Regions from separate parts of the Homo sapiens genome. Here regions 1 and 3 are each reported to be linked to region 2. The links are microRNA targets in miRTarBase. Many come from high-throughput screens and were not tested one by one. Region 2 holds a microRNA gene; each other region holds the end of a gene's coding sequence.

Region 1 (3,000 bases), not on the chromosome of region 2:
CTCTCAAGTATGAAATCAAGAAGCTGATCTACGTACATCTGGTCATATGGCTGCTGCTGGTTGCTAAGATGAGCGTGGGACACCTGAGGCTCTTGTCACATGATCAGGTGGCCATGCCCTATCAGTGGGAATACCCGTATTTGCTGAGCATTTTGCCCTCTCTCTTGGGCCTTCTCTCCTTTCCCCGCAACAACATTAGCTACCTGGTGCTCTCCATGATCAGCATGGGACTCTTTTCCATCGCTCCACTCATTTATGGCAGCATGGAGATGTTCCCTGCTGCACAGCAGCTCTACCGCCATGGCAAGGCCTACCGTTTCCTCTTTGGTTTTTCTGCCGTTTCCATCATGTACCTGGTGTTGGTGTTGGCAGTGCAAGTGCATGCCTGGCAGTTGTACTACAGCAAGAAGCTCCTAGACTCTTGGTTCACCAGCACACAGGAGAAGAAGCATAAATGAAGCCTCTTTGGGGTGAAGCCTGGACATCCCATCGAATGAAAGGACACTAGTACAGCGGTTCCAAAATCCCTTCTGGTGATTTTAGCAGCTGTGATGTTGGTACCTGGTGCAGACCAGGCCAAAGTTCTGGAAAGCTCCTTTTGCCATCTGCTGAGGTGGCAAAACTATAATTTATTCCTGGTTGGCTAGAACTGGGTGACCAACAGCTATGAAACAAATTTCAGCTGTTTGAAGTTGAACTTTGAGGTTTTTCTTTAAGAATGAGCTTCGTCCTTGCCTCTACTCGGTCATTCTCCCCATTTCCATCCATTACCCCTTAGCCATTGAGACTAAAGGAAATAGGGAATAAATCAAATTACTTCATCTCTAGGTCACGGGTCAGGAAACATTTGGGCAGCTGCTCCCTTGGCAGGCTGTGGTCTCCTCTGCAAAGCATTTTAATTAAAAACCTCAATAAAGATGGCCCTGCCCACACTGTGCCTTGTGTTTGGGGCTTGATAGAGTGTGAAAGGTGTGTTGCTTGAAAGGTGTGGCCTTAGACACTAGGAGATGATGGGTAGAAGCTCCTTGAGAAACCTAGCAGTGGCCATAGAGAAGTAGACTGGGTATGGGGAACCTAAGTCATAGTTGTAACCTACAGCTGATTGGTAAGAACTATGGGCCAGACATTTAATCTCTCCATCTATGAAATAGTCCATTCTCATTTATCTACCTTAGGTTATGGGCTCTTCTTTTAGTTGGATATTCACATTTATCTTTCAGTGTTAACTGGGTATCAGTTATGAGTCTACTACTGTATAATGGCATCCAAAAGAATTTTAAAGTACCTCGGTTTATAGGGATTTACAATTCAGTAGAAACTTGTTATTCATGTGAAACAGTGAACATAATATCTAATGATGTGGAGCAAGTACATTAAAAACAGGAAGGAAGAGATCTGTGATTAAACTAAAGGCCCTTTCACACCTAAAATTCTGGCAGTATTTATTGCATGAAAGATAATGTGTCTCTTTGCACTTGATTTTATTGTCTCTGGATGATGCCCAGATCTGTAACTGCAGAGCTCTGCCCTCTCCAGAGATGTAGTCATTATTTTGTTCTAGAAACATTGTGTATGTAGTTAGTCATTACTGAGTCACTTTTTTTTTTTTTTTTTTTTTAATTGAGACGGAGTCTTGCTCTGTCGCCCAGGCTGGAGTGCAGTGGCACGATCTCGGCTCACTGCAAGCTCTGCCTCCCGGGTTCACACCATTCTGCCTCAACCTCCCAAGTAGCTGGGACTACAGGTGCCCACCACCACGCCCGGCTAATTTTTGTATTTTTAGTAGAGACGGGGTTTCATCGTGTTAGCTAGGATGCTCTCGATCTCCTGACCTCATGATCCGCCCTCCTCAACCTCCCAAAGTGCTGGGATTACAGGCGTAAGCCACCGTGCCTGGCCTTTTTTTTTTTTTTTTTTTTTTTTTTTAAAGGCAGTGTTTCATTTCCCTCACCCAGGCTGGAATGCAGTAGCGCCATCTTGGCTCGCCTCTACCTACCAGGCTCAAGTGATTCTCCTGCCTCAGCCTCTCAAAGTGCTTGTGTTACAGGTGTGAGCCATCGCGCCTGGCTGGCAGTACTTACAACTCTAAAACCTCTTCCTCTAGATGTCCTAATTATCATCTCAAAATAAGTATGTCCCAAACAGACCTTTGTGTTTCTGCCTCATACCCATTCCTCTTCCTGCATCCCTTTGTTCAAGTGAGTATATACCAAGAGTACAGCTCTGGATTATCTGTTCCATGATCATTAAGTCCCTACTATGATCTTTGTTGCAACTTAAATGCCTTAAGCTCTGAGGTTTCCAAAGTGGTCCCAATCCACCAGTCCTGCATTATCTCCCAATACCCCTAGTCTCATGCTGTCTTAGTCAACTAAACCTCTTATGGATCCCCATGTAGGTTTCGTGGTTTCCCAGTTTCCTTTGCTTAAAAATTTCCCTTTTCTATTTTTATACTGCTTTATTAATTATCCTTTAAGGCCCAGTTAATATGGCAATTCTTGAGCTTTCTGGTTCCTTCAATTCAAGGAACATGAATTCCTTCTCTGAGTTCTTATTTTACTGCTTTTAGGTGCTGCACAGGAGGTGTGAAAAACATGCAATTCTTTTTATTTATTTTTTTTATTTTTATTTTTTTTGAGACAAGGTCTTACTCTGTCGCCCAGGCTGGAGTGCAGTGGCATGATCTTGGCTCACTACAACCTCCGCCTCCCGGGTTCAAGCGATTCTCTTGCCTCAGCCTCCCTAGTAGCTGGGATTACAGGCGCCTGCCGCCGCGCCCGGCCTAATTTTTTTTTTTTTTAAACAGAGTCTTGCCCTGTTCCCTAGGCTGAAGTGCAGTGGCTCGATCTGGGCTCATTGCAGCTTTCCCTCCCAGGTTCAAGCGATTCTCCTGACTCAGCCTCCTGAGTAGCTGGGATTACAGGCATGTGACACTATGCCTGGCTAATTTTTGTATTCTTAATAGAGACAGGGTCTCACTATGTTGGCCAGACTGGTCTT
Region 2 (4,598 bases):
TCCCTGCATTTGCCAGACCATCACAGTGGAGGGGAGATATCTAGGTTGGGCTCATTAAAAGAGATAGGCCAGAGGTGGTGCTTTGTTGAGCCGACTACCTGGAATGAATAGCAAACGACTGTTCCATGTACCTGACCTGTCAAGACTGGAGTTTCCTGGGTTTTGTTCCTTCAAGGTAGTCAAGTCAGTCCTACCAGTCTGGGAATAGCAGATGCTTTTCTTGCAGTGTGTTTGGTTGGAGGAGTGTTGATTTATTCTCTGCTATGAGACGTTTAAGCTTTTTTTTTTTTTACCCATTGCAGGAAGTAGGATCTGATGACAGGGTTTTTAGCTGCAGGAGGTTTTAGGTGCAGGAGACATGGAATTTTATCCTAATTTCACTGCTAGGTGTTTGTAGGGCCCTGTGGAGTTCTCGTTTCACTAGTGCACATGTATGAAAAGCCTCCTGTGAATGAGGCACCGTGCACACATTCCCATGTGTCATCTGGGATGGCCTCAGAATAGCCCACGATGCAAATGTCTGGGCAGTAAACAGCTTCAGGGAATAACCAACCCAGGGTAGGCAGCAAGTAAAAGGCAGATCTGGGATTTGTGCTCAGATTTTTAAACTCTAGTTTATTTTTCCCATAACTATCACTTTTGGCTTCAGTGTCTTCATCTGTAAAGTATGGAGAATAGAAACACCACCCTATCTTTGTAGCTGCCTTTACAGTTTGCAAAAGAACTTTCACATACAGTGGTCTCCCTTGAGTCTTACAGCACTCCTGTGAAGTTGACTGACTTCATTGCCCTCATTTCACAGATGGGAAATCTGAGGCACAGGACCTGGACCTGCTGACTCTTTACCTAAATCTTTACTGCATAACCCCAGCCGCAGCTCCTGAGCTCCCTCCGCTTTATGTCTTCGTCTGTGAGCTGGACTCTCAGAGGGCACCCATTCCTGGTTCTGATGCTTATAATGAGGGAGCAGGTGGTGCTTACATGAGGTAGAACACGTGCTGCTTTCCTGCACAGATGTCTGATGGGCAGTCTGGGGCTAGACCGAGCTTCTTCAGAGTCATCAGAGACCCGGTGCCGTGCAGCTCCCTGTCCCTGGGGTGGGGCCGTCATCCTCAGGGACAAGCCAGTTCTCACCTCTGTCTTCCATATTCTAGGTAACAAGGCATATGAGGGGAAGGGTATGGCCCTCCAGGTTAAGGAGACTCTCTGGAAGCCCCACAAAGCACTTCTAACAGCTCGTCAGGCAGACCTCACTCACATAGGGAGGCTGGGATGTGCAGTCTTTCAAATGCACAGAGGGGCACTGCCTGGCCACTGGGGCCTAGTCCCTAAGAAGGAAGAGGAGAATGCAAATGCATACTGGGTAGAGAATTAGCAGCTTCCGCTGCACCAAGATTCCTTCTAACCCTAAAACCCCTGTGGTTCTGAGATTTTTCCCTGGCTCCCTGTAGGTCTCCCAGGTATCGTGGTGATTAGGGACTGGGTATGGGTGGGATGAGCTCTTTGGCACTGTAGGGCTGTGCTCACTTCAGCCCTAAAGAGCCAGTTTCTCCTTGGAGGTCTGTCTGTGTAACTGCCATAACAGAACGGAGCCCAAAGCAGGCTCGTGTTGGCCTTGTTTGATGCTAGACAGGTAGTGTCCCTCAGGGCTGTAGAACAGGGCTGGGATTACTAAAGCCCTGTTCTATGCCCTGAGGGACACTGAGCATGTCATTTCACTTCTCAGAGTCTTCATCTTCTCTCTTTGAAATGAAAATATTGGACCGGGGCTCTGTATCCAAAGTCTCCTCTAGCATTTACATGGGAGGCTGTGGCTCTGTGCTCTGGGTCAAGTCACTCCACCCCTGAGTCACCATTTTACTCTTCTGTAAAAGAGATATCTATGTCGTAGGATTTTTGTGAAGCTTAAATGAGAATCTGTATTCACCCAGCACCTGGCATGTGAGCGGTGCCACATCCACAGAGCCATGTTAGAAGCTTCCACCATCACAGTCTTATGACATGAAAAGTTTAATGCATTTTTAAAAAATCTCTAAATTATATAACAGAGCATGTTGGCTTAGAGAGCGCATATGTTCCCAAGCATCTTTTGAATAATTGCTCTCAAAATAATGTCCTTGAAATGTTTTTATATTTAAGTGGGATGTGCAGAAAGGAGTTGACATAAGGCCTGAGGCTGCTATCTTTAGAGGCCTGCTTGCAAGGTGGCCCATGGCTAGCCTCTGATTTCATGACGGTTCCTGACATTTCTTGGTTGAAAAAGTGGCTCATTTTACCTAAACTCAAGCTGTTTGTGTAAATAATGTGCTTTATGCTGAATACGTGCTTTCCTTCTGGGAGTCTGGAATATTGGCATATGCTAGGCAGAAGGTGGGCACTGCATCTCTAATGAGCTTCCCTGGCAGCCAGCATTTCACATGTGCTGTCAAATTCCTTGCTGGAAGAATTGAATGTGTCCTGTGTGACCCGACTGGGAGAGGACCCCTGGAAGTTTGCACCCGTGTTCCACTGGACCTTGCCCCGTGTGCCTTTTCCCCGTGCTGCTTTTGCTGTGTATCCTCTTGCTGCAATCAGTCTTAGCTGTGAGGATGACTATATGCTGAGTCCTGAGAGTCCTCTTACTGGGTCATTGAACCTGAGGTTGGTCTTGGGGCCCCTCAACATGGTACTCAATAAATACATGTTGACAGGCAGCATGATGACCTACACAGGGTCCATCTAGAAAGAGGGTGCTCAGGAGAGGGTGGGGAAGGCAGAGGAGAGATGAAATGAGAGGTGAAATTCAAGAACAGAGTTTAAAAGCAAAAATCCTGCCCAGAGAGTGGGAAGGATGGGAAGGAGCAGTTTTTTGGTTGAGTGGAAAGGTTGAGTAGGGAAGCAGTAAGGAGTAAGGATTTGAATAAGGTTGGATGAAAGATGTGAACTTTTAAAATTGTGTGTTCTGCACGATCACATAGAAAAAAAAATCTAGAAGGAAATTGATTGAGATTTAAAAATAGTAGAGTGACAAAACAGTTTCCCTCTTTTGTCTTGTCCACATTTGTCTTAATTAGCACATGTTGCCTCTTTAATGGGAAGAAACTAATATTTGAAAACTTTTATTTGCTTTAGAAACAACAGAAACCAGTCCATAATTGTAAGTGGGGAGTCAGGTGCTGGAAAGACAGTGTCGGCTCGCTATGCCATGAGGTACTTTGCCACCGTCAGCAAATCGGGCAGCAACGCTCACGTGGAAGACAAGGTCCTGGCATCCAATCCCATCACCGAGGTGCGTACCACTGCGGAAGGCAGCTGGGTGTTGGTGATGGAAATGGGGGTTGGTTGGTTTGTGTGCTCTCCTGGCTAATTCAAGTTCCCACCCTTTAAAGACTAAAGAAGTGAGGGCAGGAAAGACCCGGGAAGCCTATTTGCTGGTGGGATTTGAAGGAGATGGGGGCAGAATTGTTACTTTCAAGGCTCTCTTCTGCTCTACCTGCTGGGCTGGAAATCTACCATCAGACTCCAGGAGTCCTCTGTTTACATTTACATCCCAGGGGAAACCAAACATCACTGGTACACTGAAATCACTGGTGTTCTCCACCCAGCTGGCATCAGCATTCATGAGCTGATTGTTAAAATATTCAGGAATTTTGCAAGCTGATTGATAAACCTTTGGTAGTTTGACATCAGTCAGGGGAGAAGTATTTATACCTTCTGCCTTGGCAGAGGCCACATGTCAAGACTCTTCCTCCTGCCCTCCCCAAGAGCCAGTTCATCAGCACACTACTGACTGGGACAGAGAGTGGGCAAGGCCAACCGTGACGGTGCCCAGGGGGGTGAGGAGACAGCCCTCAAGGAAGAAGAGGCACCCAAAAGGCACAGAGGAGGGTCCTGCAAGCCAACTCCAGCTGCCCCGCAAAATGGGAAGAGGATTGATTTGAATTTATTTGGAAGCAAAGCAAAAAATTAAGAATATTAGACTACTAGACCTCTTCTCCCTGTTTTCTCAAATCAAAATCCTCAATGAATATTTATCAGACAATCTACTCTGTTGAAGTCACTGCTTAGCTAATGTGGGAAGTGATGGAAAAGAATAAGACCCAATCTCCAAGTGTAAGATTCTTCTAACCTAATGTAAGAATATTTTAAAATTAAATAGAAACATATGTCGGGGGGGGGGTACTAAGAAACACTGCAAAGCTCATAATTCAGAGGCATAGGCTTACTTAGAAACATAAATTACAATCCAAGATACCAATAGAAAAGTTATCAAGGCTGGGTGCGGTGGCTCACATCTATAATCCTGCACTTTGGGAGGCTGAGGTGGGTGGATTGCTTGAGCTCAGAAGTTCCAGACCAGCCTGGGCAACATGATGAAACCCCATCTCTACCAAAAATACAAAAAATTAGCCAGGTATAGTGGCACATGTCTGTAGTCCCAGCTACTCAAGAGGCTGAGGTAGGAAGATTGCTTGAGTCAGGAGGTGGAGGTTGCAGTGAGCCAAGATTGCACCACTGCACTCCAGCCTGGATGACAGAGCAGGACCCCATCTCAAAATAAAAGTTATCAAGAGCCAGTGCCAAGTTAAATGCCCAGTGGATAATTTTGTGTAAATATT
Region 3 (3,000 bases), not on the chromosome of region 2:
GATTTTCTTTATTCTCTTCCTTCCCCTCTCTATCGCAGGCGGCATATTTTCTACCTTCAGCATCACTTAAATGGTAGGTTTCCTCACAGCATGACCCAGTTGTCACCTGCAGACAGCCCTGGGGGGACTTTGAGTGACTTGCACCTTATCCCAGCAGGCTCCCAGCTGTCTCAAGCAATGGAAGTAGATGGACTGAATGACTCTAGCAAGCAAGGCTATTCCCAGGAAACCAAACGCCTGAAGCGGACGCCAGTTCCAGACTCCCTAGGCCTAGAAATGGAGCACAGGTTCATTGATCAAGTATTGTCCACCTGTCGGAACGTGGAGCAAGCCAGGTTTGCCAGTGCATACAGGAAATGGCTGGTTACTTTGAGTCAATGAAAGAGGTGAATTAGTCCTACAAGGTTCCCCTTTTAGTGCAATATTGCTTTCTTTTATTATTTACATAGTTGCATGAACTGTTTACTATTATTGGCTAACCATATGTTCTTCGTCTTTAGGTTGAAAGTCCATAGTAAATCTTTCATTTTATTTATTTTGTTAATAACTGGCATTCCTGTGGGGATAAAATAATCGTATAGTTCCTTCCTGCTGAACAGCGAGTCTTAAATTTTCTGTTTAACTTCTCACCCTTTGTATTTCTATATGTGGGGCTTCTCATTTGGTTTTCCTGATTGGTTCACACACACACACCTCTACCCCCCTCAGTCCAATTGCTGCATAGGCAAATTCTTTTAAAAATTAAAAATTTAAGGCCTAGGCAGGAGGATTGCCTGAGCCCAGGACTTTGAGACCAACCTGGGCCACATAGCAAGACCCGATTTCTACAAAAAGTAAAACAAAATAGCTAGGCATGGTGCTATGCAACTGTGTTCCTAGCTATGCAGGAAGCTGAGGCAGAAGGATTGCTTGAGCCCCAGGTGTTTGTGGCTGTAGTGAGCCATGATTGCACCACTGTACTCAGCCTGGGCAATAGAGTTGAGACCCTGTCTCTAAAACAAATTGAAAATAAACATTTATGTTGCAGTTCAACTGAAGAATGTTGGTATGAATGCCGAATAACTTGATGTAATTGTTTTGAGAATCAAATGGCTAGATGGGCGAATGTTTAAAAATGTAAACTAGTTCTCTTTCTCTAGCATGTTCTACCCAATTACCAAAGTCAGAAGTATTGGAATTTATATGAAAAAAATGCTTCCAATGTAATCCATTTTTTAAATGGTTATTTAAGAAAAAACTAACTTAAGAGTTTATGTAATTGCAGTAAAGGAAAATTATTTTTATTGCTAGTTTTGATAGATTATTTTTACCTCAAATTTGGTATATGCCAAAACACATCAGTCCTTATAAAATTGATTTTTTTTTCCTGAAAACCTGGAATGCCATTTTTAGCTATTACTACTTTTTAATTTCAAATTCACTTATGACAAATGGGAGAAATATATAAAGAAATAGATCCATAAAAATATTCCTTTTTAAAAATCTAAATTATTGAGGATACACTATGGAAACTATAAAATTATCATGAAGTGACTGTTAAAGTTTACTGGCAAATGCCAAGGGAAGGAATAGTATGTGCAAAACAAAACACTTTGATACTGAACTTAATCAGGGATGAGGTACCAAAGTATCCACATTATAGCCGTATCTTATGTTTCCAATAACAAGGGCTGAGTTTTTCAGGTAGGTGGGATGAGGGTGGGGAATGGGCCATGTAATGTCTGCTTTCTTATATTTGCCCTTTTGTAAGTGGTCTGTTTCTTCTTTTCATATACTTTGTTTTGCCAATCCATTACGTATTTTTTGTCACTTTTGTGTGTCATTTTTGTATACCTTTCCTTTCTTACTTCAGGGGTGTGTCTTCAAGATTTCTACCCCCTATTTGCAATGAATTTCATACCTCATCTAAAATACATTCATATACCAGAAATATGAAGAGTGGCCCTTCTAAAAGTTTCCCTAATGATGGAAGCTGTCAGTTGTCCTATCTGTGCAGAATGTGAGTAATAGTGGCAGAAATAAGTGTGACAACAATGCTTTGCCTGTTGTTCTTTTTACTTGCTAGGTAATTTGTAAAGTGGGGATAAAGATGTAGGGAAAGTAAACCTCTCTCTCACTGTTACGGAAAGCCTGGACTTGAGTTAGGTAGACTGCCTTAAAGAAGAAGAAATATGTCCTTTTCTTTGGCATCATGGTTTTGTTGAGTGGCAGACTGTTGAAGTGAGTTGAGACTTAAGAACGCCAGAAAAGTTGTCTAGCCTGGCCCCAGTAGACAGAATTTGTTCTTCTCTCAAGTAAAAAATTACCTTTTTATAGCTTTTATATTATTTAGATGAAAAAATACCATTATGAACATAATTCCATGGCCCTTTGTGTACAAAGCATATTTTGAATTAAATACCTCAAGGTCCACCTAGACCTCTATGGATAAAATCATAAGTTTATGATTTTTAGCTCCTGTGAGTGTTTGGGGGCAAACTACACAGAGAAGACATGGGTGGTTCAGCCCATTCCACTAAAATATGTTGCCAGATTCTGGCCTAACTCAGTATTACCTTTTTTCCTAAAAATCATTTTTCACATTTTGAGTAATAGGGCTTATGCTTTGATGTGAAAAAATGTCAGGAAATGAGTGTAGACAATACCCTATAAAACACTAGCTAAGTTTTATAGTGCTCCATGCCTTTGTGTACCTTCCACTGATTATCTTGCCTATCTTTGGTGTGTAAACTATTTTCATATCTTCTAAGGCTCTTAACCCACTCTTTTCTGAAGCCGCACAGTCCTTTAATATGTCTTGTTTCCTTCCTAAAAGTTTAAAGTAGAGAGCAAAAATGCAAATACCCAAAGGATACTGTTAGTATGTAACTTTTGTGTGCTGCTTTATTTCTAGAGTTTGCATTTTTTAATTGTTCATTCACAGAAAATCCTAATATTGCCCTATATGGTTGGTTTTTTTCCTAAGTGGTTAATATTTAAACCCGCTAGCTGTAGCATGAT

What was found. The annotated mature microRNA hsa-miR-1266-3p reads CCCUGUUCUAUGCCCUGAGGGA and lies in region 2 at 1,678-1,699, shown strand. An mRNA with a match to its seed (bases 2 to 7 or 8) in the 3' UTR can be bound and repressed. Matches are read on the target gene's strand: a 7mer-m8 pairs with bases 2 to 8, a 7mer-A1 pairs with bases 2 to 7 and ends in A, and an 8mer does both.
Region 1: the mRNA of JAGN1 is a reported target of hsa-miR-1266-3p. Seed matches in the 3' UTR shown: 7mer-A1 at 1,379-1,385.
Region 3: miRTarBase lists PTAR1 as a target of hsa-miR-1266-3p. The part of its 3' UTR that is shown has no 7-base or 8-base seed match.

The regions. Positions count from the first base shown.
Region 1 is chr3:9,892,920-9,895,919 of GRCh38, forward strand. JAGN1 (jagunal vesicle mediated transporter 1) reads left to right here. Exons shown (of 2, transcript NM_032492.4): 2 at 1-1,430. The coding sequence ends at 458. Among named protein-coding and RNA genes, the nearest start is that of JAGN1, 3.8 kb to the left of the region's middle.
Region 2 is chr15:52,274,232-52,278,829 of GRCh38, reverse strand. MIR1266 (microRNA 1266) reads left to right here and starts at 1,630; the gene lies at 1,630-1,713. MYO5C (myosin VC) reads left to right here. Exons shown (of 41, transcript NM_018728.4): 5 at 3,112-3,268.
Region 3 is chr9:69,715,723-69,718,722 of GRCh38, reverse strand. PTAR1 (protein prenyltransferase alpha subunit repeat containing 1) reads left to right here. Exons shown (of 8, transcript NM_001099666.2): 7 at 39-73; 8 at 155-3,000. The coding sequence ends at 381. Among named protein-coding and RNA genes, the nearest start is that of PTAR1, 43 kb to the left of the region's middle.